7 linked regions of the Homo sapiens genome follow. The protein of the gene in region 4 purifies or fractionates together with the protein of the main gene of each other region. This does not show direct contact. Each region holds a gene or a part of one and is shown on either strand. Other genes may lie near its edges.

Evidence for each region.
Region 1: the proteins of MFNG (region 4) and HS6ST1 purify together in Homo sapiens (affinity purification with mass spectrometry; one large-scale study listed by BioGRID and IntAct). This does not show direct contact.
Region 2: the proteins of MFNG (region 4) and CIP2A purify together in Homo sapiens (affinity purification with mass spectrometry; one large-scale study listed by BioGRID and IntAct). This does not show direct contact.
Region 3: the proteins of MFNG (region 4) and CLPTM1 purify together in Homo sapiens (affinity purification with mass spectrometry; one large-scale study listed by BioGRID and IntAct). This does not show direct contact.
Region 5: the proteins of MFNG (region 4) and PPFIBP1 purify together in Homo sapiens (affinity purification with mass spectrometry; one large-scale study listed by BioGRID and IntAct). This does not show direct contact.
Region 6: the proteins of MFNG (region 4) and RMND1 purify together in Homo sapiens (affinity purification with mass spectrometry; one large-scale study listed by BioGRID and IntAct). This does not show direct contact.
Region 7: the proteins of MFNG (region 4) and HAPLN3 purify together in Homo sapiens (affinity purification with mass spectrometry; one large-scale study listed by BioGRID and IntAct). This does not show direct contact.

Annotation. Positions count from the first base shown.
Region 1 is NC_000002.12:128,266,531-128,270,849, reverse strand, and holds part of HS6ST1 (heparan-sulfate 6-O-sulfotransferase 1), read left to right. Parts: intron 1-1,979; coding exon 1,980-2,688; 3' UTR 2,689-4,319. UniProt on the Homo sapiens protein: 6-O-sulfation enzyme which catalyzes the transfer of sulfate from 3'-phosphoadenosine 5'-phosphosulfate (PAPS) to position 6 of the N-sulfoglucosamine residue (GlcNS) of heparan sulfate.
Region 2 is NC_000003.12:108,582,743-108,587,061, forward strand, and holds part of CIP2A (protein CIP2A), read right to left. Parts: intron 2,471-4,319; coding exon 2,323-2,470; intron 342-2,322; coding exon 235-341; intron 1-234.
Region 3 is NC_000019.10:44,958,022-44,962,340, reverse strand, and holds part of CLPTM1 (putative lipid scramblase CLPTM1), read right to left. Parts: intron 379-4,319; coding exon 266-378; intron 1-265. UniProt on the Homo sapiens protein: Involved in GABAergic but not glutamatergic transmission. Binds and traps GABAA receptors in the endoplasmic reticulum (ER).
Region 4 is NC_000022.11:37,475,845-37,480,163, reverse strand, and holds part of MFNG (beta-1,3-N-acetylglucosaminyltransferase manic fringe), read left to right. Parts: intron 1-665; coding exon 666-819; intron 820-3,182; coding exon 3,183-3,268; intron 3,269-4,319. UniProt on the Homo sapiens protein: Glycosyltransferase that initiates the elongation of O-linked fucose residues attached to EGF-like repeats in the extracellular domain of Notch molecules.
Region 5 is NC_000012.12:27,530,232-27,534,550, forward strand, and holds part of PPFIBP1 (liprin-beta-1), read left to right. Parts: intron 1-4,319. UniProt on the Homo sapiens protein: May regulate the disassembly of focal adhesions. Did not bind receptor-like tyrosine phosphatases type 2A.
Region 6 is NC_000006.12:151,424,215-151,428,533, reverse strand, and holds part of RMND1 (required for meiotic nuclear division protein 1 homolog), read left to right. Parts: intron 1-951; coding exon 952-1,052; intron 1,053-4,319. UniProt on the Homo sapiens protein: Required for mitochondrial translation, possibly by coordinating the assembly or maintenance of the mitochondrial ribosome.
Region 7 is NC_000015.10:88,881,727-88,886,045, reverse strand, and holds part of HAPLN3 (hyaluronan and proteoglycan link protein 3 isoform 2 precursor), read left to right. Parts: intron 1-4,319. UniProt on the Homo sapiens protein: May function in hyaluronic acid binding.

The sequences.
Region 1 (4,319 bases), on a different chromosome or scaffold from region 4:
TCACAGGGTCATTGGCTGGGGCTAGGAGGGCAAGCTTCTCTGTTGGTGGACACATCACACTGTGGTTTTTTGTGTTCAGAAGAAACCTGCCACACTGGCCTGTCTCCATCCATTTGGTCACGGCCCCACAGGAGTGGGGAGCGGAGGTCCATGCGGCCCTATGCCTCCCCTGGACACAGGGTCAGCTAGGAAGGATATGGATAGCCTCTTCTGAGCAGTCAGGGCCTCGTGAGCCTGAGGCAGGAGACAGAAGCCTGCCCCGGCCGCCTCGGGCCCTTACTCCCTGGCCCTTGGTCATTATTGTTTCTAAAACGTTTGTCTCACCTGCTACCTGAAGAAGGTCCCGCCCTCTGGCCCTTGAGGCCCCGAGTGCCCAGGAGCTGCTGCCATCAGCATGGATGGGTGGTACCAGGCAGGCTGTGGGTGCAGGGTGCTTGGGGAGGGCCAGGTGTGCCTTGGGACGTGTGAAGTGGGAGCCTGGAGCAGGGAAACTGAGGCCTGCTCTCGCCCCTGCTGCCCACAGCTTATCTGCCCCCTGGAGACCAGCCGTGCCTGACCCTGGGGTCGTCAGCTCAGTCCTGCTGGGTCCTTCCTCCACCCCATCTGCTGAGAGCTCCTCCAGGGCAGGGTCTGAGCCTGCCAGGCCACAGAAAACACTGGGCGGATGACAGCTGCCTGTCCCTTCCTCGGCAGTCTGCATGCAGTAGTGCTGGCCTTGCTGCCTGCCCCTGGAGCCATCACTGGCTACCCCGCCTGCTTCAGAGCTGCCACCCCTGGGGCTTTCTGACATGTCCTCATAGGCGGGGGTGGCCTGCAGTGGCACCGCACCACTTGCCAGGCACTGTGCCTCCCTCCCTGCAGGGAGGTGTGCGGTCAGATCAGGCAGTTGCCAGCGGACACCAAGAAGCGCTTTGTGCTCCCCGGGGTCCCTCCATGCCCCCCACCCCCACCCCTGCCCAGGGCAGTGTGAGGGGAGGAGGGGAGCAGTGTGGGTACACTTCCATGTTGCCATCTGGGGAATCCTGGCGGGGGGTCAGGGCCCTTCTGGAGCTGCTCCCCCGGGCAGTGAGGGGCCCTGTGGGCTCCTAGGCTGCCTGCCTGGCCCTGGTTCTACTTGGCCTGAAGCCCACCCACCCCAGCGTGGACAGGAGCCAGGAGGAGGAGCCCTCTAAGAATGACTGCAGCCTCTCCCGGGGCTGAGCCCACACACACACACCGGGCATATCCACAGCCGCCACCACGTTTTACCCACCTGTCCAGTGTCCTGACGCCTCCAGCCCAGCGTCATAGCGAGCCTGGCAAGGACATGCTTCATGCTGGGCTCCTGCCGCGCAGGGGAGGGTGGGAGGTGGAGTCTTCCTTGGGTCGTTTCTCCCTTGTGCACGCACCGTTACATACTGTGCAATGCGTTGGTGTCTTGGGGGACAACCCAGCAAGTAGAGTTGGTGTATACGTCATGGCTTCCTCTGGGGTCCTGGGCTGGCTGGTCCGCTGGGCACCCCCCCCCCAACCACCACCAGGCCTTGGCAGGACCCTGGGACTGGGACTGGAGGTGACCCTCGCTGGCCCCTGCCCACCTTCTGTTCCTGCTGAGTGGCTCTTTGGGTGGCACCATGCCCAGGCTGTAAACAGCTGGTGAAGACTGCTGGCCTCAGGCGGCTGTGGCTCTGCGACTTCTCTGGATGCGGTATTGGTGGCTCCACCCACCAGCAGGAAAAAGTCAGGTTGTCCCTCCAGAGGAGCCAGGCCAGGCGCTGCAGGGCACTGTGGTGGTCATCCTGGGTAGCCATGTGACCGTGGCATGCTCCTTGGCATCTCTGATACCGGGTTTTGAAACGACTGAGAGCTAAGTGCAGGAGTTGGTTGGCATTAGAGGCGAAGCCCAAACTCCTGTAGTGGGGACTTTGACTCAGAGCAGCCCTGGTAGCCCCCCTCATGCTGCGTCACAGCCCTCACCTCCTCTCCCCGTCTCCTTGCAGGAAGTTCTACTACATCACCCTGCTACGAGACCCCGTGTCCCGCTACCTGAGCGAGTGGCGGCATGTGCAGAGGGGTGCCACGTGGAAGACGTCGTTGCATATGTGTGATGGGCGCACGCCCACGCCTGAGGAGCTGCCGCCCTGCTACGAGGGCACGGACTGGTCGGGCTGCACGCTACAGGAGTTCATGGACTGCCCGTACAACCTGGCCAACAACCGCCAGGTGCGCATGCTGGCCGACCTGAGCCTGGTGGGCTGCTACAACCTGTCCTTCATCCCCGAGGGCAAGCGGGCCCAGCTGCTGCTCGAGAGCGCCAAGAAGAACCTGCGGGGCATGGCCTTCTTCGGCCTGACCGAGTTCCAGCGCAAGACGCAGTACCTGTTCGAGCGGACGTTCAACCTCAAGTTCATCCGGCCCTTCATGCAGTACAATAGCACGCGGGCGGGCGGCGTGGAGGTGGATGAAGACACCATCCGGCGCATCGAGGAGCTCAACGACCTGGACATGCAGCTGTACGACTACGCCAAGGACCTCTTCCAGCAGCGCTACCAGTACAAGCGGCAGCTGGAGCGCAGGGAGCAGCGCCTGAGGAGCCGCGAGGAGCGTCTGCTGCACCGGGCCAAGGAGGCACTGCCGCGGGAGGATGCCGACGAGCCGGGCCGCGTGCCCACCGAGGACTACATGAGCCACATCATTGAGAAGTGGTAGTGGCGGTGGTGGCCACGGGGAGGCCTCTTGGGGGGTGTGGGGGATAAAACAGGACAGACGACAGGTCCACCCAAGACTGTCAAGGGATGAGCATCCCAAACCTGCTCCACAGAGGTAGCTGCGTCCTGAAAAAAAACAGAGCAGGGATGTAGTGGGGCTGGGCAGGGATGGGGGCTTGAGAAATCAACAGGTGCAGCCCAGTGGGTCAGAGGAAAGCGTGCTCGAAGGATGCCATGGTCAGGGCAGGGCCTCCAGAGCAGGTGTTGTGCCTGGAGCTGCTCTCCTGGCCTCCTTGGATTTATCGCAAAAACTGAAGGTTTGCGCAAGAGACGAGGACAGCGGAAAGTGGACCTGCCAGGCCGGGAGTGTGTCCCTCACCAACTATGCACACAGCACTCGCTCTTAGCTCCTCTGTCCGGGCTACTAGGAGTGAGACCAGCTTCTGGCAACTGCCCCAGCTCCAGGCCATCCCATAGCCCCTCCTCTTCTGGCTGCCCCCAATGCCCCGAGGCCTGGGGAGCCCCCAGCTCACCCATCTGTAGCTCCCTCAAAGTCAGGGCCCACCCCATCTGAGGCAGAGAAGACTCGAGTCCAGCCCCCAGGAAGCCTGCTCCCCTCTCTGGCCCATGGTCCTGCTTCATGCTTTGGGTCAGGAGGCCAAAGCTGATGTTCAGGCCCCACCCACTCCCTACAGTCCTCAGACCAAGGAGGGGTTTGGGTAGTAGGCCCGAGCTGCATTGCCGGCCTTCCTCGGGCCAACTGGCAGCCCAGGAGTGGGGAGGCTTTGGCCAGGGATGCTGCCACTTGTGCGTGAGTCCGCGGCTGGCCCTTGGAGGTGACCATCCAGGCAGGCCTGGCTCAGACTGGAAGGGCTGGGGACCGAGGGCTCCCCTGCCTCTGTTCTCCTTTCTGACCCACTGGGATTTGCTAGCAGGCTGCCCCAGCCCCATCACCGAAACACATACTCAAGAGCTCAAATACCACTGCTCCCACCAGCGTACGGATTAAGTTCATCAGGCTTCCATCGGCTGGAGCATGGGACCATAGCCCCTGCCCAGGAGCCGTACCCTCGGACCACAGTGGCTCTGTATGGCCAGGAACTGGGACTCGAGCTTTCAGATTCTCAACTAGCCTTGGCAAAACAGCTGTAGGTGGCCTCCCTGACAACAGACACTCAGCCCTCCCCACCCTGGCTCTCCTTGCATTTCCCCATGCTCCCCACCCCCTGGCAAAAGGCTGGCCATGCTCTGTTCCCAGCAGCCGCGCAGGTTTCCCCACTGGCTGCAATGGCCCTACCAAAAGCCATGTTGCATATCCGTTGTAAGCACGTGCCCTGTGCCCTGTCCCCATTCCTTATGCCCTAGGAGGCCAAGCTGGTGTCTCTAGGAGGGCCCACACAGGCACCCTGGATCCCCCAGAGAGTAGATTGGTGTGCTCAGGCCGCAGGCTGACTCAGAGGTAGGGCAGTGGGCTCTGCAGGCCACCTGGCTGGGGTTGGTGGGGGTCCTCTCTCCTGCCCCAGCTTCCACTCAGCCACCACAGTTGCCACACCATGGGGTGGAGACGTGGGTCACCACGGGCTTGGGAGCAAGCGCCTTCTGCAGCACAGGAAGCCGAAGCTGGGGTCAGGT
Region 2 (4,319 bases), on a different chromosome or scaffold from region 4:
TATAATGTAGATTTGTTTTTCTTCAATAGTGGTGATAGAAATGGATAAGCTTCTCTTCTCTAGAAACATTTAAATTGTATGTGTGCAACCAGCTTTTAATGAGATGAACTGTGCCTAATCATGTAGTATTTATTATATAGCATATATACACTGTAAGTCAGCAGTTTATGACAGAAACTATCAATTTTGATCTGACAGTAAGGAAAGGGGAATACACTGTGTGGGTCTGTATACCTGCAAAAACACCGAATCAGTGTGGCTGCTCCGACAAACCACTCCCGCCAGCACACTATTCAGATTATATGTATTCTGAAGACAATCTCTGGTTTCAATGTCTACTGCTATAAGTTAAAATAAAAGCACAAAATATATCATTTTCTTACAAGGTTTTGCAGATAATTCATACAGAATTTATTTCATATGAATTTATTATTAAAAAAGGTATGATATGGCTATTTTCTTATTTTCTTTATGATAACCCTCCAATTCAGAAATTCAAATGATTTCTCTATGTAAAATAAACTAGTATCAAAGAAAAAACTTGTTTACACATTTGTAGCAAGCTTTTTCTTTGATACTAATTATTTTAGTATCAAATTAAAATCATTTACTTTGAATATTAAAAGATTATCACTTTATGGTATATTTACACAATGGAATACTATTTGGCCATATAAAAGAATGCATGCCATTTGCAGCAACACGGATGGAACTGAAGGCCATTAGGTTAAGTGAAATAAGCCAGACACAGAAAGAAAAATATTGCATGTATTCATTCATGTGTAGGAGCTAAAAAAGTTGATCTCATGGAAGTGGAGAATGACAGTTACCAGAGGCTGGGAAGAATATGGGTGAGTGTGTGGTGATGGGAGGTGTGAGGGGGAGCCGTTAGTGGGGGAGATGAAGACAGATTGATTAATGGATATAAACACACAATCAGATGGAATAAGTTCTAATGTTTGATAGTAGAGTAAGGTGACTATAGTTAACAATGTATTGTATATTTCAAAATATGACTTGAAATGTTCTAAATACATAGAAATGATAAATCCTCATTTGTGATGGATATCCTAAATACCCTCAATTGATCATCACATACTTTATGCAGGTAACAAAATATCATATGTACCCCATAAGTTTGTATAAATATTATGTATCTGTGAAAAAATTAATTTAAAAAGATTATCATTTCAATTTTTCTGGAAACCTCAAATGCTTCTAAAGTATAAACACTGGAAGTGACTGGCATATTCATTCAAACTGTTGGTGGATGTTAGAAGTGGAAGAATCTTTTCAGAAAGCAATTTAGTAACGGTTATCAAATTTTAGAATGATCTAGAAATTCTAATGGAATTTATCTAATAGAAACACACTAATATTTGAGCAAAATTACATAGAATGTTCACTGCACTATTGATTCCAATAGCAAAAACTTAAAGACAGTTGACTGTCCACTATTAGGGGAATAGTTGAATAAATTACAGTACCCTGTAATTAAGGCACTAGGCAGCTATTAAAGATACTGATATGGAAAGAAACATCTGGTGCTCCACAACACCATTTGTGCTGAAAACAACCAATTAAAGATCCAAAAGTATTGTTTTGTTACAGCACAGAAAAATATCTGCAAAGAAACATACCAAACCATTAAATGAGATTATACCCTCAAAGCTGAAAAGATGAGGGCTGGTGGTAATGGGTACAGGCTCACCCCATTTTACTCTATGTCTGGGCTGTCTAATTTGGTAGCCACTAGCCTTCATGTGGCTATTTCAATTTAGATTAATTAAAATTAAAGATTCAGTTCCTTAGTCTATTACCCACACTTCGAATGCTTAATAGCTCCATGTGGCTAGTGGCTGCTACATTGGATAACACAGTTTTAAAACCATTCTGTCACTGAAGAAAGTTTTATTGGACAATGCTGCTCTGTGTTAATACTTCTGGATCACTAGAATTTTTTAAACTATGCATATATTACTATTATAATCACACAAAGAAATATCCCCACCGCCCTGCCCCAAATTGGAGTAGTGACCACTAAATGAACATTTAAGAACTAAAGAAATGGGGGAAAAGATAGAAAAAGCAACATCAGTACTTTTACCCTTTAGTTCTAAATTCAGTGTAATCTATTACAGAAGGATCATTCTTTGATCGGTAGCTATGACTTCCTCAGTGTCAAAAGATTCACAATGCACACTAGACTGAGAAGTCTTTGAAGGTGAATCATTCTTTAAGAGATTCTATAACTAAGCCTGCACTTTAAAATATTGTTCATACATCTTCCAAAAACTAAAAAGGAGAAATTAAATGCATTACCTAGTTGAGACAGCAAACCGATAATACTTAAGATCAGTGAAGCACTTATGTTGGGGTCTTCAAGTAGCTCTACAAGGCAACTCAAGCATTCACTTGTTAATATCTGATTTGATGTAAATAGTCGTGTGAGTTTCTGTCCAGAAATTACCTATAAAATAGTAATCAAAATGTGTTGGTTAAGCGATGGCAATTTTCATCTCTTCTCCATTTCAAATAAAAAACTCAGTTCCCTCAAAGTGCCACTGCTACCTTCCCAATTTAAAAAATTCACACATGCTGTGAAAAATTCACCCCTGCCTAGAGTACCCATCAATTACCTAATCCCTCCCTCCCTAGCTAAAGTAATCATTTGGATCTCAGTTTAAAATAATTTCCACCAGGAAGCTTTTCTTAGTTTCTTATACCATCTCAGTTCGGTCGGCCTATTATGCTATCCTATAGTACATTATATTTCTATTTCCTAAGTTAGCAAACTTTTGAGTTCCTAGCAATATTTCTCCTTCACACTACATTGAACATGCGATGAAGGCATAGCCTACAAATCTGCACTCTAGTACCAATATATTTACTATGCAAATAAATTCTAATACATTCTACTTACTTTGAGGGAGGAGAATGAAAAATGAAGCCCAGAGGGTAGTTATGGGATTATTCCTTCTGCTTCTTCCCAAAGACAATAGGTGAGCTCAGAAGTTAAGGGATTAAAGAAGGAAGTGAAAAGTGAATCTTTTTTTAAGTAGCCAGGCAAGGCATTGAAAAATTTTATTTCTGATTATTCCATTGTTTTTTTTACTTTCTTGTAATCTATAAGCCACATACACGCATGCACAGACACATACATACACACACACACACACAGAGTGAAAGAGAGAAGAGAGGAGGTAAAGCTGGAACTAAAGGCCAAAAGCAGTTGTCTCAAAGCATGAATTTTCAACATACTTTATGGATGTATTTATTACAAAGCATATCTTTTCTACAAAGATGGCAAAACCATTAGTTACCTTAGAATAAGACTAACTCTGTCCTGAATACTTATTTTAATAAGATCAAGCCTAAGCAGGCTGCTTTAGCATCCCTCTAATCTTTCCTTTCTGTATCCTCCCTTTATTCTCTCACCCACATCAGTTTTTCTTCTAAGGCTTTGCTGATAAGAGTTTCACATTATCTGTTCCCAAGGAGTGTTTTAACATTACTAAAGTAAAAGTCTATACAAGAAAAAATAAGTCCAAATATGAAAGTGCAGATGCCAGTAACAGATATTCTGGGGTAGGAAATACTGTGGGCATTACCCTGTTGCTTATTTATAAATCTAGCTCTCCAGAATAAGACACTTGCTGTTTTAAAAATGATTCTCTATAGGATTGGTCCTGTATCTCATTAACATAAATTGTCTAACATGTAATAATTATATGCACTAGGTAAAATAAAAATTGCTTTACAAGTTTTCCCTTTACTTATACTGAATCTCTTAAAACAAAGATAATTTATTTTAATAATAACTAATACTTATACAGCACTTACTCTGGCCTAGGCATCGATCTAGGCACTTTACATATGTGAACTCTTTTCATCTTCATAATAACTCTATAAGGTAGGTACCACTATTTTGTTTTGCAGATGAGTAAACTGAGGTACACACTGATAGTAAAGAAGCACAACTGGAATTCATATCTAGGCAGCTTGGTTCCTGAATTCATGCTTTTAATCACTACACAAAATTAGTGTTATGAAACATCATCATTAAAAATCAGATTAGCTCAGCTTTGCCAGTCATCAAACATTCAAAGCCTACACTCTGCATGGGGCTATAAAAGTGTGGGAGAAGTACAGAAGAATGAATAATCTCCTTTCACATGATACCCATCTCTCTTTGCATACTCAGATCTCGCTCTCATGAAGTCTGTACAAAGACATTCACCATTAAAAATACAAATACTGTCAACCAAAATGGTTAAAATTAAGAAATATGAAAACATCAAGGGTTGGTGTGGATAAGT
Region 3 (4,319 bases), on a different chromosome or scaffold from region 4:
AGTATTTTTTGTGTTTTTATTTTTTCACAAATCAGGTAGCCCCCCAAAAACCAGAACAGGTTCAGGGAGACTCCCTACTTCAGTATGTTTTACCAGAGTAAAAAAAAGGTTTAGAAAACATTCCATCATACAAAAAAAAAAAGAAAAAAAGCAACTCTACCATACAGTAATGATCACCATCCTCAGCTGATCAGCTGACTTTTCCTTTCTTCCTTATTTTTATTTGAATGTTTTCGGTGAACAAACCCAAGTCCCGTCTGCTCACCTAAACAGCACACCTTTGATGACCTGCCAGGCATTGGGTGCCGGCTGGGCCGGTGGGTTCTGAGGCTGGGTCTCCGCTGGCGGGTCCCTCCCGATGCTGCCATTGCTGGTCACCTGTGGGGGACAGAGGCCAGGGTAAGGAGGGAGAATGGACACGGGGGCTGTCTTAGACACCATCATGCATGAAGGCCAGGCACAGGCTGGGCAAAGAGTGGGTGCTTATCAATAACTGGAGAATGAATCAGTGAAAACACCTGGGAAGGTGCGGTCCTCTTCTTTTAGGAGGAAAACACTCGCAGAGCACCTCTGTGACCTAGGGACAGTGGTGACCTAGAGAGTCTTTTGCTGTCCTCCTGGGGTTTAACAGCCCGGTGGGGGAGAAAGATTCATCTCTAGACAGTGACTGTCCAGAACGGGGCAGGAATGCAGGAGCCCTGAGAGGCACCTGGTCCAGTCTAGGGTTCGGGGCAACTTCCTGGAGAAGGGGGCATTGAAGCTGAGACCTAAAACATAGCAAGTTGGTGGCACAAAGGAGGAAGTGAGAGAAGCAGCAGGTGCAGAAACAGAAGATTAGAGGCACAGTCTGATTCTGATGACTGTCCACTGTTCCCTGGGGCTGGAGCCAGGATGCAAGGAGGTGGCTATTGGGGACAACAACAGAAGGAGTCTTATGGCAGGTGCCAGATTCTTCAAGGCTGGGGCTTAGCTGAAAGAGCCTTCCCTGGGCAAACCATTCCTGAGGCCCCCTCTGTGGCCAACCCTGCCCTCCAAGGGCCCCTGGTCCAGCAGGTGGGACAGACACAGAAAAACACAACCAGACTATCAGCTGCTACCATAAGCCACGGCCACAAGACATGTCTGTGACAGCACACAGCACACTAATCCTGAGGCCAAAACTATGACCAGCTCCATCCGGCTGCTGAGCAAAGGGAGGCTCAGAGAGGTGAAGCCACTTGTCTGGTCACTCAGGAAGGACCGCAGAAGCAGAATGACAGAAGGGAAGGGGGGCAGGCAAGGGAGCCAGGCACGGCTTCCCAGAGGAGGACTCTTCACTCAGACACAGAAGGTCACAATCAGAGACTCTCTGAATGCCAGGTTTGGAAGGGGATGTTCTGCTCACCCTTCACGCACCCTGCTAGCTCCCCAGTCCTGTTCTCATTCACCCCTCCTCCCAGCTGTCCCCTCAGCCATCAGCCTTCAAGAGGCAGGACCAGGGCTATCACAGTCACAGTTAGCTCAAGAGCACCAGTGGCACAGAGCAAGGCTGTGATAAACACCTGTGTGGCCACCGCTGCCTGAAGGACTCACCCCGGACGCTCAGGTCACCCAAACCCACTTCCCTCTGAGGCTCCAGTGTCTGGCCCTCTCCTCCACAGCCCCTAGTCCACTCCTCTGCAATGTTTTCTCCATTCACCTTACCCACCAGATAGCAAATGTCCCAGGAGCATGGTTAGAGGGGCTACATGTGTTAAATGTGTCACTTGTCACCTCCTGTCCCCTTCACCAGCAAGAGCTCTTTCCTGTAATCTCCCAAAGCACAGGACACCATTGGAGGGGCTCCAGGGTCAAACAGACCTCAGCTATAGTCCTGGTCCCACCGTTCTTGGCTGTGACACCTTGGGCACATCACTTCACCTCTCTGACCTGTGGACCAGGTTGTGAAAATACTGGAACATTTTAGACAGAAATCTGGGCCCTGCTTACCCAGAGCTGGGGATCTAGAAGGAAACACACTAGAACGGTAAACAGGATAATTAAAAATGGTACATGGAAAACAAGCAGGGGGAAGTGACAGCAACTGAGTTGGGAACAGGGATCCACTTTGGAGTGGGTGGTCAGAGAGGCCTCCCTGAGGAGCTCCCTTTGACGTCTGGGTCGTCTGGGTGAGACCCTTAGGCTGAGACAGAGAAAGCCACATTCTGATGAGGAGATCTATGGGGCGGGGGTCGGCTGGGGAAGGGAAATCAGACAGGCACAAGGCCCCCTCCTCAAGGCCAGCCTAGCTATTGGGAAATTTAGGGGTCCAAGTATGGGTTTCAATGGGTCTGAGCTGATTTGGGGTCAGGAAAGGACACTTGATGCCAGGTCAGGATTTGAAGCTGCATCTGACTGACTCCCAGGTCTCTTCGCTTACCCGTTAGTGATGGGCAATCTGGCTGGGAACCTTCCCACGGAAAGGCAAGTTAAAACCACAATGAGGTGTCACTTCACACCTATTAGGATGGCTATCAGCAGAAAGACAATCACAAGTGCTGGCAGGGATGTGGAAAAACAGGAACCCTCGTATGCTGCTAGGGGGGAAAGTAAAAGTACAGCTACTTCGGAAAATATGGCAGTTATTGAACAAGTCATATGTGCACCTACTACACAATCCAGCAAACCCATCCTGAATGGCTACCCAGGAGGCAGAAAACATGAAGCCAGACCAGGCGCAGTGGCTCACGCCTATAATCCCAGAACTTCAGGAGGCCAAGGCAGGAAGACTGCTTGAGCCCAGGAGTTCAAGACCAGCCTGGGCAACACAGCAAGACCTCATCTCTATAAAAATACAAAAATTAGCCAGGTGTGGTAGTGCATGCCTGTGGTCCCAGCTACTCAGGAGGCTGAGACGGGAGGATCAATTGAGCCTTGGAGAATGAGGCTACAGTGAACCAGGATCACACCACTGCACTCCAGCCTAGGCGACAGAGCATGACTCTGTCTCAAAAACAAACAGTGGCCAGGTGTGGTGGCTCATGCCTATAATCCTAGCACTTTGGGAGGCCAAGGCAGGAGGATCCATTGAGCCCAGGAGTTCGAGACCAGCCTGAGCAACACAGGGAGACCCTGTCTCTCTTACTTAGAAAAAAAAAAAAAGAAACAAAATACAGCCACAGAAAAGCCTGTACATGAATGTTCATAGCAGCATTATTGGCAACAGACAAAAACTAAAAACAATCCAAATATCCTTCAAGGACTGAAAGAATAAACTGTGTCATGTCTGCAGACTACCACTGAGCAGTGAAAAGGAACAACTGTGAGCACGTACTTTAGGATTTCCCCAAAGGCCAAATTTCCCTGATCCTAGGTTGTAAAAAATAAAATAAAAATGAACAACTGCAGATCTATGTAACAACATGAACCTCAAACCCATTATGCCCAATGAAAGAAGCTGGACACAAAAGACTGGATGTTGTTTAGATCCTTGTTTAAGACATTTTTAGAAAATTACAGAGATAGCACCTCTGTGGCTGCCTAGGATTGGGAGCAGCAGAGACTGTAAAAGGGAACTTTTTGAGGGGACAGAAGCTTTCTCAGACCAGACTGTGGTGATGGCTGCACCACACAACTGCATAAATGGACCAGGAGCCAATGGACTCTATCCTAAGAACAGGTGAACGTTATACCATCTAAATTATACCACAAGGCTGGACGTGGTGGCTCACGCCTGAAATCCCAGCACTTTGGGAGGCCGAGGTGGGCAGATCACCTGAGGTCAGGAGTTCAAGACCAGCCTGGCCAACCTGGTGAAACCCTGTCTCTACTAAAAATACAAAAATTAGCTGGGTGTGGTGGCAGGTGCTTGTAATCCCAGCTACTTGAGAGGCTGAGGTAGAAGAATTGCCTGAACCCAGGAGACGGAGGTTGCAGTGAGCCGAGATTGTGGTGAGAAAGCGAGACTCCGTCTCAGAAAAAAGAAAAAAAAAAAAAGAGTCACTCTTTTCAGCTCCTATTTCCCTCAGAGTAAAGGCCAAGTCCTCCCCATGGCCTCCAAAGCTTGGCATAATCTGCATCTGTCCCCAGCCACCCCTCTCCCCTCACCCGCTCCAGCCTCCTCGCCCTTCCTTCATCACACCAGGCACCTCCCACTTTAGGGCCTTCGCACTGGCTGCTCCTTTGCCTGAAAAGCTTTTCCCTCGTGTATCTTTGGGACTCCCTCTCTCACTTCCTTCAGGTCTTTGTTCAAGCGTCACCTCCTCAGAGAGGCCTTCTAGACTACCCTATTTAATTGCAACTCTTCTACCCACCCCTCACTTCCTATCCCCATCCCAGCTTTATTTCTGTCCATGGCACGC
Region 4 (4,319 bases):
GTCTGGGCCCAGTGAAAATAACCCCTGGGACTCCTGGGGTCTGACTTCAGCCCCCACTCCTCTAGCAGGCAGTGGGCAGATGGCTGGGAAGTCCAGCTGGGTTCCAGTCCTGACATTCAGGATTGGGTATGTGACCTTGGGAAAATGGCTTTTTTTTTTGAGACAGAGTATCGTTCTTCTTGCCCAGGCTGGAGTGCAAATGGTGCAGTCTCGGCTCATTGCAACCTCCGCTCCTGGATTCAAGCGATTCTCCTGCCTCAGCCTCCCAAGTAGCTGGGATGACAGATGCCCACCATCATGCCTGGCTAACTTTTGTAATTTTAGTAGAGACGGGGTTTCACCATGTTGGCCAGGCTGGTCTCGAACTCCTGACCTCAGGTGATTCACCTGCCTCGGCCTCCTAAAGTGCTGGGCTTACAGGCGTGAGCCACCACACCTGGCCAGGGCGAGTGTCTTAACCTCTCAGTCTTGGTCCTCAACTGTGAAGTGGGTACCCTCCTCATGAGCTTACACAATATGCAACTTGGCACAAAACAGATGCCTTAAATGTCAGCCTCTCCCACCCCTACCCCCATTCCGTCACTGTTGACCGACTGTGGGGGTGCTTGGGGACCCTGGCTTGGAACCCCCCCAACAAGTTCACTGTCCCCGTTTCATCCCTACAGGTGGTTCTGCCATGTGGACGATGACAACTATGTGAACCCAAGGGCGCTGCTGCAGCTTCTGAGAGCCTTCCCGCTGGCCCGCGACGTCTATGTGGGAAGGCCCAGCCTGAACCGGCCCATCCATGCCTCAGAGCCACAGCCCCACAACCGCACGGTGGGTCCCTCTCCTCCTCCTTTGCCCCTTGGCCCGCTGATCCCAAGGGCCGGGCCGGTCCTGGGGGTGGGGGTGTGCTAGAGAGGTGAGAGGGGTTCTGGGTTTCAGGTTTGGCCCTATGTGGGTTTGGGCTGGTAGCTTCCCCTCTTCAACCCTCAGTCTCTTCCTCTGTGAAATGGGGAGACTGAGATCATGCAGTCGTGGCACAGACACAGTACATAGTGAGGCCTCCATCCCCCAGGAACCACGGCTTGTCCTGGTCACTCAGGGAGCATCCAGGTGAGCTGAGGCTGTGTGACACCACAGCAGGGCTCCCAGTCACCTGGTGTCCCCATGTAGGTGTGCAGGTTGTTAAAATGCTGGAATGGCTGGGGGCAGTGGCTCATGCCTGTAATCCCAGCACTTTGGGAGGCTGAGGTGGGTGGGTGACCTGAGGTCAAGAGTTCGAGACCAGCCTGACCAATATGGTGAAACCCCGTCTCTACTAAAAATACAAAAATTAGCTGGGCATGGTGGCGGGCACCTGTAGTCCCAGCTACTCGGGAGGCTGAGAGAGGAGAATCGCTTGAACCCAGGAGGCGGAGGTTGCAGTGAGCTGAGATTGTGCCACTGCACTCCAGCCTGGGCGGCAGAGCGAGACTCCGTCCCTCCGTCAAAAAAAAAAAAAAAAATTGCTGAATACTGTGGGGCTGGGTGATTGCTGCCACCTGAGCCCCAGAACCCTTCCCCACCTTCCCCTCCTGGGGCACCCTCTCCCTCCAGACACCTCCACTAGCCTGTGACTGAAGAGTCGACACCTGGCAAAACAGGGGGCTCTGTACCCGCCTCAGTTCCTGACCTGGATGGACACTGATTTGGGTTGCCAGATTCATTAAACAAATAAATGAAAAACCACTACATCCAGTTAAACTTGACTTTCTCATAAATAATGAGGAAATTTTTAGTATAAGTATGTCCCAAATATTGCATGGTTCTCTCCCTGTCCCCAGGACCCCCTGGGCATCAGGTGTTAGAGTGGTCCTGGCCCTAGGGCTCCCTTGGCTCCAGGAAGAAGGCAGATCGGGAGGTCCCTCTCTAGAGGCAGTGCCTGGTGCAGGAGCTGGGCACACAGCGGGGCTCAACCTCCCTTCCCAGGTCCCCATCTGCTTCATTAGGAAAACCAAGAGCAGAAAACACAGAGCCTTAATTATCAGTAGCTAATCAGCCTCTGAGCCTTAATTAAATTCTTCTGGGCCCTAGGGCTCTGTGTATGAGTGATTCCAGGGGAGCCAGGGGGTCCCCCAGGCTCTCACACCACTTCACTGCTGGCGACTCACCTCTGCCTAAGCAGTTTGCCTCTGGGGTGGAGAACTGCACGCTGGAGCCTGACTCCCTGGGTTTACACGGCAGCCCTGCCACCTCCTGGCTTTGTGACCTTGACTGAGGTCACCTCACCTCTCTGTGCCTCAGTTTCCTAATCTGTGAAATGGGTGATAACAGCCCCTACTCAAAGAGTGGTCGTGAACACAGAAGAAAGAATGAAATGAGGTCATCTCTCCAAGTCCTTGGAATGAGACCTGGCACGAAGTCAACACTAGAAAGTGTTAGTGATCTGAGGCCGGGCGCGGTGGCTCATATCTGTAATCCCAGCACTTTGGGAGGCCGAGGCAGGTGAATCACCTGAGGTCAGGAGTTTGAGACCAGCCTGGCCAACAAATAGTTAAACCCTGTCTCTACTAAAAAATACAAAAATTAGTTGGGCGTGGTGGCGCACGTCTGTAGTTCCAGCTATTTGGGAAGCTGAGGCTGGAGAATCGCTTGAACCTGGGAGGCGGAGGTTGCAGTGAGCAGAGATGGTGCCACTGCACTTGAGCCTGGGCAACAGAGCAAGACTCTGTCTCTTAAAAAAAAAAAAGTGTTAGTGATTTGTATTGGACACAGCCTGACCTTTGTTTCCCAGCCACATCTTTCCTATGCACACTCAGGCCCCGTCAACCTAGGCCCACCTCTGTGGCCCAGGAGAGCAGGTGCCATGTTCGGCAGCCCCTCCCAAGCCACATGGAGTGAGGTAGAGACCTTTCTCAGGGGAAAGGGGCATGGTGGCTGGGTGGGTAAAACAACACCTGTCCCCTTTAACTGGAATTCAGCTGGACTTGAGTCTGATCAGTGACCTCACCACTCATAATTAACTATGTGACTTCGGGCCTCTGTTTTCTTATCTATAGAATGGGTGCAATAATGCCAGGTTGTAGCAAGACTCTAGTGAGATTCAAAATAAAGGGCTTTTGAGCCATGCTGGTTGGGGGTGAAGGGTGGCCTGGCTGTCCCTTTTCCCCACAACTGCCACCAGGCTCACTCTGCCCCTTGGCCTTCCTCTCTCTCAGAGGCTGGTACAGTTCTGGTTTGCCACTGGGGGTGCTGGCTTCTGCATCAATCGCAAACTGGCTTTGAAGATGGCTCCGTGGGCCAGGTAAGCAGAGACCCAGGGGTGGGCAGGAAGGCGGGGAGGGGGTGGCAGCTGGGGTACAGGAGGGGCCTTTGCAGCAGGAAGGGCTTTGAGAGTGAGCTCAGGAGAAGCTGCTCCTCATTTGCGTGTGTCACAGAGCGGCAGTTGGTGGTGAACAAGCCACCTGCCACCTGCCCTCAGGGGCTGCACGGCTGAGCGCATGACGTGCCACTCACAGGCAAGTCATGTCATCTCCAAGAGCCCCAGTCCCCCCGTCGGCACATGGACCTGATAATGCAGTGGCCAATGGTGTAGTAAGGGTTAAATGAGAAAATGTCTGGGCTGGCCCTGGTAGGTGCTATTTACCGCCCTTTTCTGACTGGTCAATGCCGTAGGGGAGGTGAAGGCCAAATCTAAGGGTCTTCAGAGGAGGGAGAAGGGCCTTCTGGGTGAGGGAAGAAGGGAAGGCTTCCAGGAAGAGGTGGTATTTGAGCTGGGACAGTCCACTATACACTGGGCCATCTAAGGGAGATGATATTACTCCTAATAGCACAGTGGGTGTACATCCTGTGATATTATTCATAATATCATCTAAGGGAGATGATATTACTCCTAATATTATGAGGGGATCTCAGGGGTAGTGGAGGCCGCAGTGTGGGTGGGGGTGGGACACAGGTGTTCTAGAAGTGGCGAGGCCTGGCTTCTGGAGGTCTTTCCGGGCTATTATTATTATTAACAGCACCATCAGCAGCCACTCCCTTGTATTGAGGACTGACTCTGAGCCAGCTCTGTGCTCCATCAAGAGGATCACAACACCTGGGGGAGAAGGTGGCATTAGTCTTGTTTCTAGATCTCAGGCAACTGAGGCACTGAGATTAAGCCAGTCTGAGGTCAGCCAGGTTCAAGGTCACTCAGCTGCTGGGTTTGGCTCCAAGGTCTGCAAGCCTTGCTACTACCCAAGCCTGCCCTGCCTTGCCCTGGCTGGGAGGGGCGCCCCAGGCAATTCATACTGGACAAGAGCGGGCTCATTGTCCTGGGGCATGTCCACAGAACTGTGTGTGTACACATGACCAGG
Region 5 (4,319 bases), on a different chromosome or scaffold from region 4:
TTTTCTTGTGAATGATGGAAGAGTCGAATGAACCTGTGGGTTCTCGAAATTAACTCTGGGAAGTGAGAGGGTGGAAGGGAAACAGTGACGACTCACAGGAGACACACTGGTTGAACCTGTGATCTTGCCAGGGCCATTTGTGTGAAGTCACCTGAATCTCGGTGTTTTTCCTCTGGATCAGCTGCCTGGATGGTTTTGTCAAACTTTCAGATCCTTCCATCCTCCACCCCCATCAATGTGTGACTTTGCATAACTGAGAAAGCTACTAAACACAGAATTAAGTTTCTTTTATTGTTTTTCTCTACTAAGGGAATTTGATTCTCTAGGATGACTTGCACTTCATGTGGGAAAGACACAGCTGGATGCCCAACTGATATCCATTCCCCCCTCCTTTTCTGTAACTGAACCCATTTTGTTTAATTCACCACTATGTCCAGTTAAGTGCTAGATTTCCCAGAATCCCTTGCAGCTGGGAGGTGGTTCAGTGACAGTAGTCCTGGCTGATGAGATGTAAATAGCTGGATGCCCCGTTCCCCAAAGCTCTTAAAAGGGGAAGCCTCTGTGAGCTTGCCTGTTAAGCCTTTTGCTCTTTGTACTTCTTCCCTGGAGAAAGTAAGCAGGCCATCGCGTGACCAAAGACAAGATGCTTGAGGGTTAAGGATGAGTGGGTGGAAGGTTAGAAGGAGGCTGAGAAGCTGATAGCATTCTGCAACTGCTCTACTGGACCCATTTCTTGACTCTGTGAGAAAAATAAAATCTCTACTTGGTTAAACCACAGAACTTGGGTCAGTTACTTGCAGCCAAATGTGATCTTAACTGAGTCTAGATGTCTAAAAATCATAGTTCATCTTTTCTTTAAAAATAAAAACGTGTTATTTTGTACGAGAAAAACAGGACTTTGGAGCCATGCAGATCCTCAACTTGAATCCTGGCTTTGCTATTTATTACAGTCTAATATTGGCAAGTAACTTAACCTCTCTGGGTCTCAGCTTTCTCATCTATAAAATGGTAGCTCTGATATATGTGCCATAGCATTTTTTGAAGGATTAGAAATAATTAGAAATTATTATTATTTTTTTTTGAGACAGTCTCGTGCTGTCACCCAGGCTGGAGTGCAGTGTTGCAATCTCGGCTCACTGCAACCTCCACCTCCTGGGTTCAAGCGATTCTCCAGCCTCAGCCTCCCAGGGAGCTGGGATTGCAGGTCCCCACCAGCATGAGCAGCTAATTTTTTTTTTTTTTTGTATTTTTAGTAGAGACAGGGTTTCACCATCGTGGCCAGGCTGGTCTCAAACTCCTGATCTCAGATGATCTGCTGGCCTCAGCCTCCCAAAGTGCTGGGATTACAGGCATGAGCCACCACGTCCGGCCAGAAATTATTAATAGGAATAATAATGGCATATTCAGCACATGGAAGATCTTCAACAAATGGTGGCACTGTTACCAAAGGGAAGTGTAGTGGGGAGTCTGAAAGGGGGAGGCAAAGAATTCAGCTCTTTCTCCTAGAAGGTTCTCGGTAGGTTTATAGCTACAATCCCTTGACTCCATCTACTTGGCATTTATTCCGCCTCCTGTCTCTTATCCTCATTCCCACCTGCCCACACCAGACTACTTGGAACTCTTCTGTTTTCCAGCTTTGGTTTATAAGGATGTCCTTATAAAAATTTTATTAACTATAGCATAGGGATGAAGGGCGGGGACTCCAGAGTCAGACAGATGTGGATTAGAATCCCCTGTTGTTACTAGCTGTGTGATTTTGGTTAAGTCTTCTGTGAAATGGGAATAATTGGGTGGTTATGAAGATTACATCTGATAATGTATGTGAAGCACTAACAGCTGGTTTCTTGGCACACGACATGCACTGCTTTGATGACAGATATTGTTGTTACTATTTCATTAAGCACGTGTTAAGCAATTCCCAGCCTTGGTACAAGATCCTCTTGGAGACGGAAAGACAAACAAAACATGATCTTTACCTTAAGAGTATTCACATACAGGAGATGGGGGCAGAAAGAGATGGCACACCTTATTCATAACTGTAATAAAATGCAGATTTAGAATACTGTTTAGCTGTTAAAAAGATTGAATATACTGACTTGTACAGATGTCTATTATATATATTTTAAGAAGTAAAAAACCAAGCACACGTGTATGGTTTACATTTGTCAGTGCATGAAAAACTGCCAAGTGGGATGGCTTATGGGAGTTGGGATGAAGGGAACTTTGTATTTTTTTTTTTTTTTACAGTATATTACATCTATATTACATTACTCGAGAAATACAAAATATGTTAAAATTTTAAACATCTATTTATTGGTCCTTTTGGAGGTTGGTTGGGGAAGAGCATTCTGTGAACTAGACTAGTCACCAGAGCAAAGGAAGAGACTGGGTTTCTTGAGGTTTCATTAGAAGAGGTGGGATTTGACTGGGTCTTAAAGGGTGGGGAGGAGATTTTGAGGAGGCAGTGGGGACAGATGAGCATACTTGGGTTTGGAGCAAAATGTAGAATAGAGTGAGATTCGATTTAGAGAAAAGAGAGAACAATATTGTTTGAAAAGACGTAAGCTATATTGGGGCAAATCTTACAGGGTTTTAAAGAGAGTGACAAGATTGTACCTTAAAACAGGATGTTTTTAAGAAAAGAAGAAGTAAGGGAACTATTGTTTTATAAAAATGACTCTGGAAATAGCAGATTGGGTATTTCTAGTGGGTATATGGGCAAGGGGAGGGAGAAGGACAGAACACCCTAAATCAAGAATGGCCCGTATACAAAAGTTAATTTTCTTTTAAAGATGATGTCTTGCTATGTTGCCCAGGCTGGAGAGCAGTGGCTATTCACAGTTGTGATCATTGTGCACTCATGGGCTCAAGCAATCCTTCTGACTCAGCCTCCCGAGTAGCTGGAACTACAGGGACATGCCTCCATGCCTGGCTAAGTGAAAGTTGAATTTTAATGGGAAATATGAGTTAAGATTTGAACATCTGGAGTTTGAAATTCCATCATGACCCACATTATCCTTAATTTTCTCATTGTATAAATGGATAAAATAATAATACCTATCTTATCAGGTTTTTAGGAGAATAACAATAATAATAGGTAACACTTACCTGGTAGGTTATACTTTTTATGTACCAAGCACTACTCTAAGCACCTTAAATATTTCAACCTAGATTAATCCCATATTACGATGAGGAATCTGAGGCACAAGGAGGCTAAGTAACTTTCCCAGGATCACACAGATCATGTGTGTCAGACTCAGAATTTGAACTCAGGCAGGTGCAGCTCCAGGGCCAGTATCTTCAGCCTCTTCATAGTCCTACCTCTGGCATGGTTCTGTACTTGGGGTGTTAAAAGCCAGTATGAACTGTTAGTTGACATTATTCATATGAAGATGTTAAGCAAGAATTTAGAAATTTAGGCTTGGAGTTTAGGCCAAAGCCTGGACTAATGGATCATCTCTATAGGGCTGTTATGTAAAGAGTGAGAATGGTTGAGCTCCCCGAACAAGAGTATGTAGAGTAAAAAGAGAAGCAAGCATACAGTCTTCAGGGGACTCCTGATATTTAGAAATGGTCAGGCAAAAAAGAAGTTAGGAGAGGAGATAGAGCAGGATCTGCAGAGAAGTGGAGGATGATGGTGGCCAAGGGAAGAAGCACAACGTAAGTGAACTAATCATGCCATCCAGTGCAACAGACTCGTTACAAAGCTGTATCCAACAGACTGTCCCTGGTCCTGCTGTCAGGTCAGTTCATGAACCTGGAATCCAGAATGCAAAAAATTGAGGACTACACGGGGGCTGATGAACTGCAGGTGGCCTGGTTAGTTCATCCTTTCAAGGAACTGATCCGAGAGAGACATGGTAGATAGCTTGGGTTTGAGGAAGGCTCAGGTAGAGAGGAGGATATTAAAAGAAGAAAAAGGGAGGAAGGAATGAGTGCATGGTCCAGGGTAGAGAGATGGGGCTAGACCCAAAATCAAGTGGAGGGCAGTGGGTTAGCCTCGAAATCCATAAGAACCCTTCTTCTGATGCGATGGAAGAGAGGATAGGGGAAATGGAAAAAAAAAAGATGTGATCAGAAGGGATACGAATTGAGTAAGTTCACTGCAGGCGGTCTGCATTGATTTATCAGTAGAGTAAGAAGCAGTGAAAGGAAATTCACAGACAAGTAACTCAGGCTCCTGAGAGGATGGCTCTGGGGATTATTGTCATGGAGGAAAAATTTGAAAGAATGACAGAAGTCTCTCATCTGAACAATACAAACTGACACATTTGCCAGAATGTGTCTCGAGGCAGGAAGTTGGTTTATTGAAGTGGAAA
Region 6 (4,319 bases), on a different chromosome or scaffold from region 4:
TGTGTAAGTCCACATATCTTTTGATCTAGCAATTCCTAAAGAAGTATTCCCACAAAGCCATGAAGACCTTTGCACAAGTGTGGCACATCGCAACATTGTAATGGAGAGTAGAAAAAATTCCCCATGGAGGACACACCTAGGTTGGTTAAATAAATTGCAGTTCGTCTGTAAAGGAAAATAGTGTTGAAAATGTCATGTGCATAATATGATCCTATTTTACATAAAAAGCAGCATAAATATGTACATATATACACATAAAAAGTCTGGAAGGATATGCACCAAGTTTAATCATGGTTGCCTCTGGGGATTAGGATTTCAGTACAGAAGAGAGAAAGAGATGATCACCTCCCACACCTGTGTGGCTTAATTTTTTATTAGTATGTTGGGCTTTACTTTTTATTTTTTATTTATTTATTTTTTTGAGATAGGGTCTTGCTCTGTCACACCGGCTGACATTGGCTCACTGCAACCGCCACCTCCCAGGCTCAAGCCAGCCTCTCAGGTAGCTGGGACTACAGGTGTACATCACCACACCCAGATAATTTTTGTATTTTTTTGTAGAGACAGGATTTTGCCACGTTGCCCAGGCTGGTCTTGAACTTTTGAGCTCAAGGATCCACCCGCCTCTGCCTCCCAAAATGCTGGGATTATTAAAGAGATTTAAAGAATACAAATTATAATATTACTAGTGATTTTCCTTGGGTTGTGGGATAATGATAACCTTGATTTTCTTCTCCATTCTCATCTGTGTTTTCCAAATGTAAAAACAAATGAACATGTCATCCTGATTACTTTAATATCACAATGGATTTGATTTGCCTTTTCCTTAAAAACATGCAACAGAAATAATGCCTGTAAGTGTAATGAAGACTGTTATAAGCATTAAAATCATAACATACTTGAACTGAGGGAGTCAGTTATGATTTCAGATTAATCTTCCTTTTCTTCTAGATGAAGCATGTGATGAAAGTTCTAGAAAAACATGAAATTCAGCCCTATGAAATCGCACTGGTACACTGGGAAAATGAAGAACTTAACTACATAAAAATAGAGTAAGCAACTTTTCATCAAATTTATGAAAGGGGCACTTGGAATAAATTAGGTAAAGCAATAGAGGAGACAAATTATTATGCATATGGAAACTTTTTTTTTTTTTTTGAGACGGAGTCTCACTCTGTCGCCCAGGATGGAGTGCAGTGGCACAATCTCGGCTCACTGCAACCTCTGCCTCCCGGGTTCAAGCAATTCTCCTGCCTCAGCCTCCTGAGTAAGTGGGACTACAGGTGTGCACCACCACGCCCAGCTAATTTTTTGTATTTTTAGTAGAGACAGGGTTTCACCATGTTGGCCAGGATGGTCTGGATCTCGACCTGGTGATCCGCCCACCTCAGCCTCTCAAAGTGCTGGGATTACAGGCGTGAGCCACTGGACCTGGCCTGGAAACTTACTTTTAAGAAAAAAGTGGCCAGGCGTGGTAGCTCACACCTGTAATCCCAGCACTTTGGGAGGCTGAGGCAGGTGGATTACCTGAGGTCAGGAGTTCAGGACCAGCCTGGCCAACATGGTGAAACCCCATCTCTACTAAAAAATACAAAAATTAGCTGGTTATGGTGGCGGGTGCTTGTAATCCCAGCTACTCGGGAGGCTGAGACAGGAGAATTGCTTGAACCTGGGAGGCGGAGGTTGCAGTGAGCCGAGATCACGCCATTGCACTCCAGCCAGGGTGACAAGAGTGAAACTCCGTCTCAAAAAAAAAGAGGAAAAAGATTACTGGTACAAATACAAAGTCTAAACCATATAATAAATATTAGAAGATAAACATAATTTTTTGAACTTCTCAGGCTATCCACAAGTTAAAACAAGTCAGTAGTATAGCCCCAAAATGGAAATGTTAAGTTTCTAATCAGCCTAATCCAATAAAATAGTATGCATTTATCAAATGAACCTATCAAATTATTCCAGTAAATTTTTCTCTTAATCCAGTTTTTTCCTATTGATTTTGGGGGGTGGGGGTATGAAAAGGAAGTATAGTGAGGGGTCAATCTAAGAGACCCACTTGTAGAAGTGTGGGTGCTGGAAGAAGTGGGACCTGGTGTACCAGTTTCACTAAGATAAATGGGTAGGCAACAGACTAGCTGATTTTCCTGACTCAGCCAGAGGGAAAAAATGAAGAGATGTTAGGGCCGAGACAGAGGCAGTATGAACAAGATGGTAGTGTCTTTTTCCTCATGGAGTTACCTGTCTAGTGAAATATGAGTCTTTGCAGGTTCTTAAGAAAGGTAGTGTTAGCCAGATTTGGTGGCTCACACCTGTAATCTCAGCACTTTGGGAGGCCAGGGTGGGAGGATCAACTGAGTCAGGAGTTCAAGACAGCTTGGCCAACATGGCGAAACCCCATCTCTACTAAAAATACAAAAATTACCCGGGCATAGTGGCGAGTGTCTGTGATCCCAGCTACTTGGGAGGCGGAGGCGGAGGCAGAGAATTGCTTGAACCTGGGAGGCAGAGGTTGCCATGACCTGAGATCGCACCACTGCACTCCAGCCTGTGCAACAGAGTGAGACTCTGTCTCAAAAAAAAAAAAAAAGCGTTAAAAGCAGAGCTTTGGGAAGACTTGGAAGAGAGACAGAGACTAGCTATAGAAAGACCAGATGGGGATAAGAGCTGAGTAATCAGCGCTCACCACCAATAGGGCCAGTCACGGTTTTCTAAGTAAGTGCCTTCCATGTATTATTTCATTTAATCCTGGGGAAAACCCTATAATTGCAGCTAACTGGCTTTCCGATGAGATTTATTGAATCCTGTCTTGCCAAAGGGCACCTGACTGTGAGTCAGCCTGAGCCCAGTGGTGGCTGCAGTCAGAGGTAAGGATATAAACCTGAGAGAGACAGCAAATGAGCAGCCTGTAGTTTTATTATCTTTAGTAGTTACTCAGCCCTTGGCCTGCAGATACAGCTCCTGTGAATCCCCTTTCTGTGTTCTATTAGGTTTACATTAAAATGGCAAAAACCGCGATTACTTTTGCACCAACCAAATACTTCCATATCCAACTACTGCTAGACCCTTGTGTGTGTGTGTGTGTACGCTTATCCACACACACACACACACGTTACTGTACAGTCTGTGAGGAGTAAAATCCTCAGTGCTTAGGATCCCAGAGTCAGTTATTTTGTTTCGTCAGAAAGACTGTCCTGGCTGCCACCTACATGGTTATTATGTGAGTTCTGCCATGATTCCAGGGATCTGCTCAGCTCTGTGGCATGGGCCCAGTTTACTCATAAAGCATCTTGTGACCAAGCACAGTGGCTCATGCCTGTAATCCCAACACTTTGAGAGGCCAAGGCGGGCAGATCACTTGAGGTCAGGAGTTCAAGACCAGCCTGGCCAACATGGTGAAGCCCTGTCTGTACTACAAATATAAAAATTAGCTGGATGTGGTGGTGCACTCCTGTAATCCCAGCTACTCAGGAGGCTGAGGCAGGAGAATCGCTGGAACCCAGGAGGCGGAGGTTGCAGTGAGCGAAGATCACGCCACTACACTCCAGTCTGGGTGACAGAGCAAGACTCCGTCTCAAAAAAAAAGACCTCTTGTGACTGCTGTCTTTGCTTTCCTTCCTCCATCTGAGGCTGTCATAGCAGATGCCGCCCTCCATCAGGCCCCTTGTCCCCCTCCCTTTGGCCGTCACTTCTTGTCTGACATCTTTTGTGAAGGTTTACCCTGTCTTTTTTCCATTTGCTTGTGATGTTTATATTCACACATTCCGCTCTTCCCCTGTCCCCTGTCTAGGATTCTCCACAGTCACATACTCATTTTTCACAACTTCCTTGCCTCCCTCCCCAACCCCATCATGTCAGTGTGATTTTAGATTACACTCCATATATAGTTTTATATGCAGCATTTTTTCACATAGAAATTTACTGTGAACGTTCTCCTTTTTATTAACTATCCTTCCAAAACACACTTTTAAGTTTTTCTTGTGTGGAGTGACTATTACTGAGCCAACCCCTACTGAACATTTGGTTTATTTCCTAATTTTTTACTCTTAAACACTGACCTTTTTTTTTTTTTTGGAGACAGAGTCTTGCTCAGTCTCCCAGGCTGGAGTGCAGTGGCGTGATTTCGGCTTACTGCAAGCTCCGCCTCCCGGGTTCACTCCATTCTCCTGCCTCAGCCTCCCGAGTAGCTGGGACTACAGGCGCCCGCCACCACACCCGGCTAATTTTATTTTGTGTTTTGAGTAGAGACGGGGTTTCACCATGTTAGCCAGGATGGTCTCAATCTCCTGACCTCGTGATCCACCTGCCTCGGCCTCCCGGAG
Region 7 (4,319 bases), on a different chromosome or scaffold from region 4:
TAGTGCAGCACGGGTGCTGACCAGGCTGAATTGATGCTGTCTGCCCTCACAGCCTGAAAGTAGATTCTATTATCATCCCTTCTCATAGATGAGCAAACTAGGCTCAGAGAGTTGATCCAGTTGTCCAGGTCAAACAGCTATTAAAAAGACAAAGCTGAGGGCTGGGTGCAGTGGCTCATGCCTATAATCCCAGCACTTTGGGAGACTGAGGTGAGTGGATCACTTGAGGTCAGGAGTTCAAGGCCAGCCTGGCCAACATACCGAAACCCTCTACTAAAGATACAAAAAATTGGCCAGGCGCGGTGACTCACACCTGTAATCCCAGCACTTAAGGAGGCCGAGGTGGATGGATCACGAGGTCAAGAGATCAAGACCATTCTGACCAACCTGGTGAAATCCTGTCTCTACTAAAAATACAAAAGTAGCCGGGCGTGGTGGCAGGTGCCTTTAATCCCAGCTTCTCAGGAGGCTGAGGCAGGAGAATTGCTTGAACCTGGGAGGCAGAGGTTGCAGTGAGCTGAGATCATACCACTGCACTCCAGCCTGAACGACAAAGTGAGACTCCGTCTCAAAAAAAAAAAAAAAAACACAAAAAACAAAAAATTAGCCGGGTGTGGTGGCGTGCACCTGTAATCCCAGCTACTCAGGAGGCTGAGGCATGAGAATTGCTTGAACCTGGGAGGAGGAGGTTGCAGTAAGCTGAGATCACACCACTGCACTCCAGCCTGGGTGACAGAGTGAGACTCTGCCTCAAAAACAACAACAACAAACTTGTTCCACTTGTTTGTGGAAGGAACGAACCAGATGGCTGGTCTCAGTAATAGCCAGCACCTGCCATGAAGAGCGCACAGCCTGGTTCAGAGACGACACATGAGCCTGCAAGTGCAGTGCTGGGTGTTTCTCACCTTTCCCTCTGCCTTTGAGTAGATGATTGTGCCTGCAGAGGCATTTTCCCTCTTTTGATTAGTCTCCTAGGTCAGCTGTAACAAATTAACACAAACTTGGTGGCTTGAAACAACAGAAATGTATTCTCTCACTGCTTTAGGCACCAGAAATCCAAAATTAGTTTCACTGTGCAGAAATCGAGGTGCGGATAGGACTGTACCTCCTGTGGCTCTTGGGGAGAATCTGTTCTTGCCTTGCCTCTTCCGGTTCTGGTGGCTGCTGGCATTCCTTGGCTGTAGCTGCCTCACTGCAGGCTCTGCCTCCTTGGTCACGTGGTCTTCTCCTCTTTTATATGCAAATCTCCCTCTGCCTCCCTCTAAACAGGTACTTGCGCATTTGCATTTAGGGCCCACCTGGGAAATTCAGGATACCCTCCCCATCTCGACATCCTTAGTTTAACCTCATCTGCAAAGTCCATTTTGCTACATAATTAGGATTTAGGGTATTTTGGGAGGCCATTATTTAGCCCACCACACCCTTTTCCTTCAGAATTTATTTTGTTATACAAGCCCTACTTTATTTATTTATTTATTTATTGAGACAGAGTCTCGCTCTGTCACCTGGGCTGGAGTGCAGTGGCGCGATCTCGGCTCACTGCAAGCTCTGCCTCCTGGGTTCACGCCATTCTCCTGCCTCAGCCTCCCGAGTAGCTGGGACTACAGGCATCCGACACCATGCCTGGCTAATTTTTTGTATTTTTAGTGGAGATGGGGTTTCACCGTGTTAGCCAGGATGGTCTCGATCTCCTGACCGCCTGATCCGCCCGCCTTGGCCTCCCAAAGTGCTGGGATTACAGGCGTGAGCCACCGTGCCCGGCCTACAAGCACTACTTTAATGAGATTTGCGGAATTTAAAAAACTTAAACTTCCTACTCATAGTTTCACTACACTACCAGGCCAACATTTCATTTTTGTCTTTCCCTTTTGTCCCTGAATATGTAAGCAAAGTCATATATAATCCCCCCACCCAGGGGAACCACTGTTAACTTTTTAGGTATCTCTTTCTAGCCTTTTCTTTTTTTTTTTTTTGAGACAGGGTCTCACTCTGTCACACCAGTGCAGTGGTGTGATCTCGGCTCACTGCAACTTCTGCCTCCTGGGCTCAAGAGATCCTTCCACTTTAGCCTCCTGAGTTAGCTGAGACTACAGGCGTGCACCACTGTGCCCAGCTAATTTTTGTATTTTTAGTAGAGATGGGGCTTCACCGTGTTGGCCACGCTAGTCTCGAACTCGTGGCCTCAAGTGATCTGCCCGCCTTGGCCTCCCAAAGTGCTAGGATTACAGGCGTGAGCCACTGCACCTAGCTGAGCCATTCTTTTATGATTTAGAAAACTTTCTCCAACAAAAACCAGCTCATGTCATACATGTGATTTTTGTATTCTCCCTTATCACCTCATAGAATAGAACTCGTTTTCTAAGTCAATGATTGAATGTACATCTACCAGATTATTTTACATGGCTGTATAGTATTTTATCATATGGATGTACATTTTCATTTTATTCAGGTTAAAGCTTCAAAGGTAGTTTACTTAAGAGAGTTGGGAAGAACCAAGGAAGTGGCCCCTAAATGATAGCCCTGCTTCATATTTATTGGACACTTTCTGTGTGCCAGGCATCCTGCCTTACCTGATTTGAACCTTACCACAGCCCTCTGTAGGGACTGTAATTAACCCATTCTACAAATGGGGAAGCTGAGTCTTGACTTCCCTGGATTACACAGCTGGGAAAAGGTGGAACCAAGGGCAAGCCCGAATTGCCTGACTCCAAACCTCTGTACCTACTGCCTCTGCAGAGCAGGACAGCTCTAATCTGAATGAGCCTGAAAGTCCCCTGGAGGCTGGACCCCATTCCCAGAGTCTCTGAGGCACTGGGACCCCACAATGTGCATTTCTGACAAATTCCTGGTGATGCTAATGCTGCTGGCCCGAGGGCCACACTTGGAGACTTCTGCATATGGCAATCTGCTACATTAGGTATAGCTCTTTTTTAGCACGATTCCTCTACAGGGAACCTCCCTGTCTGTCTCCTGCTTACCCATGAGGCTGTCCCCTTGCCTCCACCTTTTTAATTAATTAATTTGTTTTTATTTTGTTTTTGGCAACAGAGTCTTGCTCTCTCACCCAGTTTGGAATGCAGTGGTGCGATCATGACTCACTGCAGCCTTGACTTCTGGGCTGAAACAATACTCCCACCTCAGCCTCCCGAGTAGCTGGGACCACAAGCATCTACCACCATACTCAGCTAGTTTTAAAAATTTTTTTGTAGAGACAGGGTCTCACTTTATTGCCCAGGCTGGTCTCAAACTCCTGGGCTGAAGCGATCCTCCTGTCCTGGCCTCTCAAAGTGTTGGGATTATAAGCGTGAACCACCGTGCCTGGCCCCTGTCCCCACCTTGAGTAAATCAAGCATGTCTTGAAGTCTAGACCCAAGAGAATGAATCAGTGAGGTCCCAACAGGGGCTCCCAAGTTAAAGATGAGGCAGCCTTAGCCTATGAACTTGATTCTTTTGTTGCATGTTGAGTTCTGTGTGTATTTGTAACTCTGAGCCGTGAGCGTAGTCTCCTTTAGAAGTTCTGCCCTTAGCTCAGTAGGCTGCTCCGTATTTGGGAAGAGTTATGGTGGACAGCTGGACCAGAGAGTAAAGCCAGGGCTGTGCTGTCCTCTGGCCAGTGTGGTGGGGAAGGAAACTCCGACGGATCCCTATCAGGGCCACTTGTCCTGGCCATGTACCTCATGTGGGGTGGCTCTTGTTGCCTGCTCCATTGGTTAGATTTTATGCATAGCAAACCACCCAAAACTTAGTGACTTCTTTAGGATGACAGCCATTTGTTTAGCTCATGATTCTGTGGGTCAGCATTTTGGAGTGGGCTCCATTTCTTCAGGTCTTGCGGTTGGGTCTTGCAGATGTGCCTGCCCATGGTGGGCAGGTCAGCTGGGGGCTGGTTGCTGTAGGATGGCCTCAGCTGGGGCGCCCTGTCTCTGTTCTGTGTATTCTCTCATCCTCTAGCAGGCAAGCCTGGCCATGTGCTCATGGTGGCTGGCAAAGTCCTAAAAAAAGAGTGGAAGCAGCAAGGCCCCCTGGGACCTATGCTCAGAGCAGGCATGATGGATAACAGTCACTTCCAAGGCATTCAGTTGGTCAAGCAAGTGGCAAGGCCAGCACAGATTCAAGGGGGTGGGGGAATAACTGTCATCTCTTGATGGAAGGAGATGCAAAGTCACATTGCAGAGCATGTGGATACAGGGAGGGGTGGAGCATGGTGGCCATTTTTGCAATCTGAGCCTGTAGGAGCCGTGGATGAGGGTGTGCGGTGGCCCTTGCAGGGGTACAGATGTGCTTCAGCAGGTCTCATCTGCACCCTGTCTCTCCCCCAA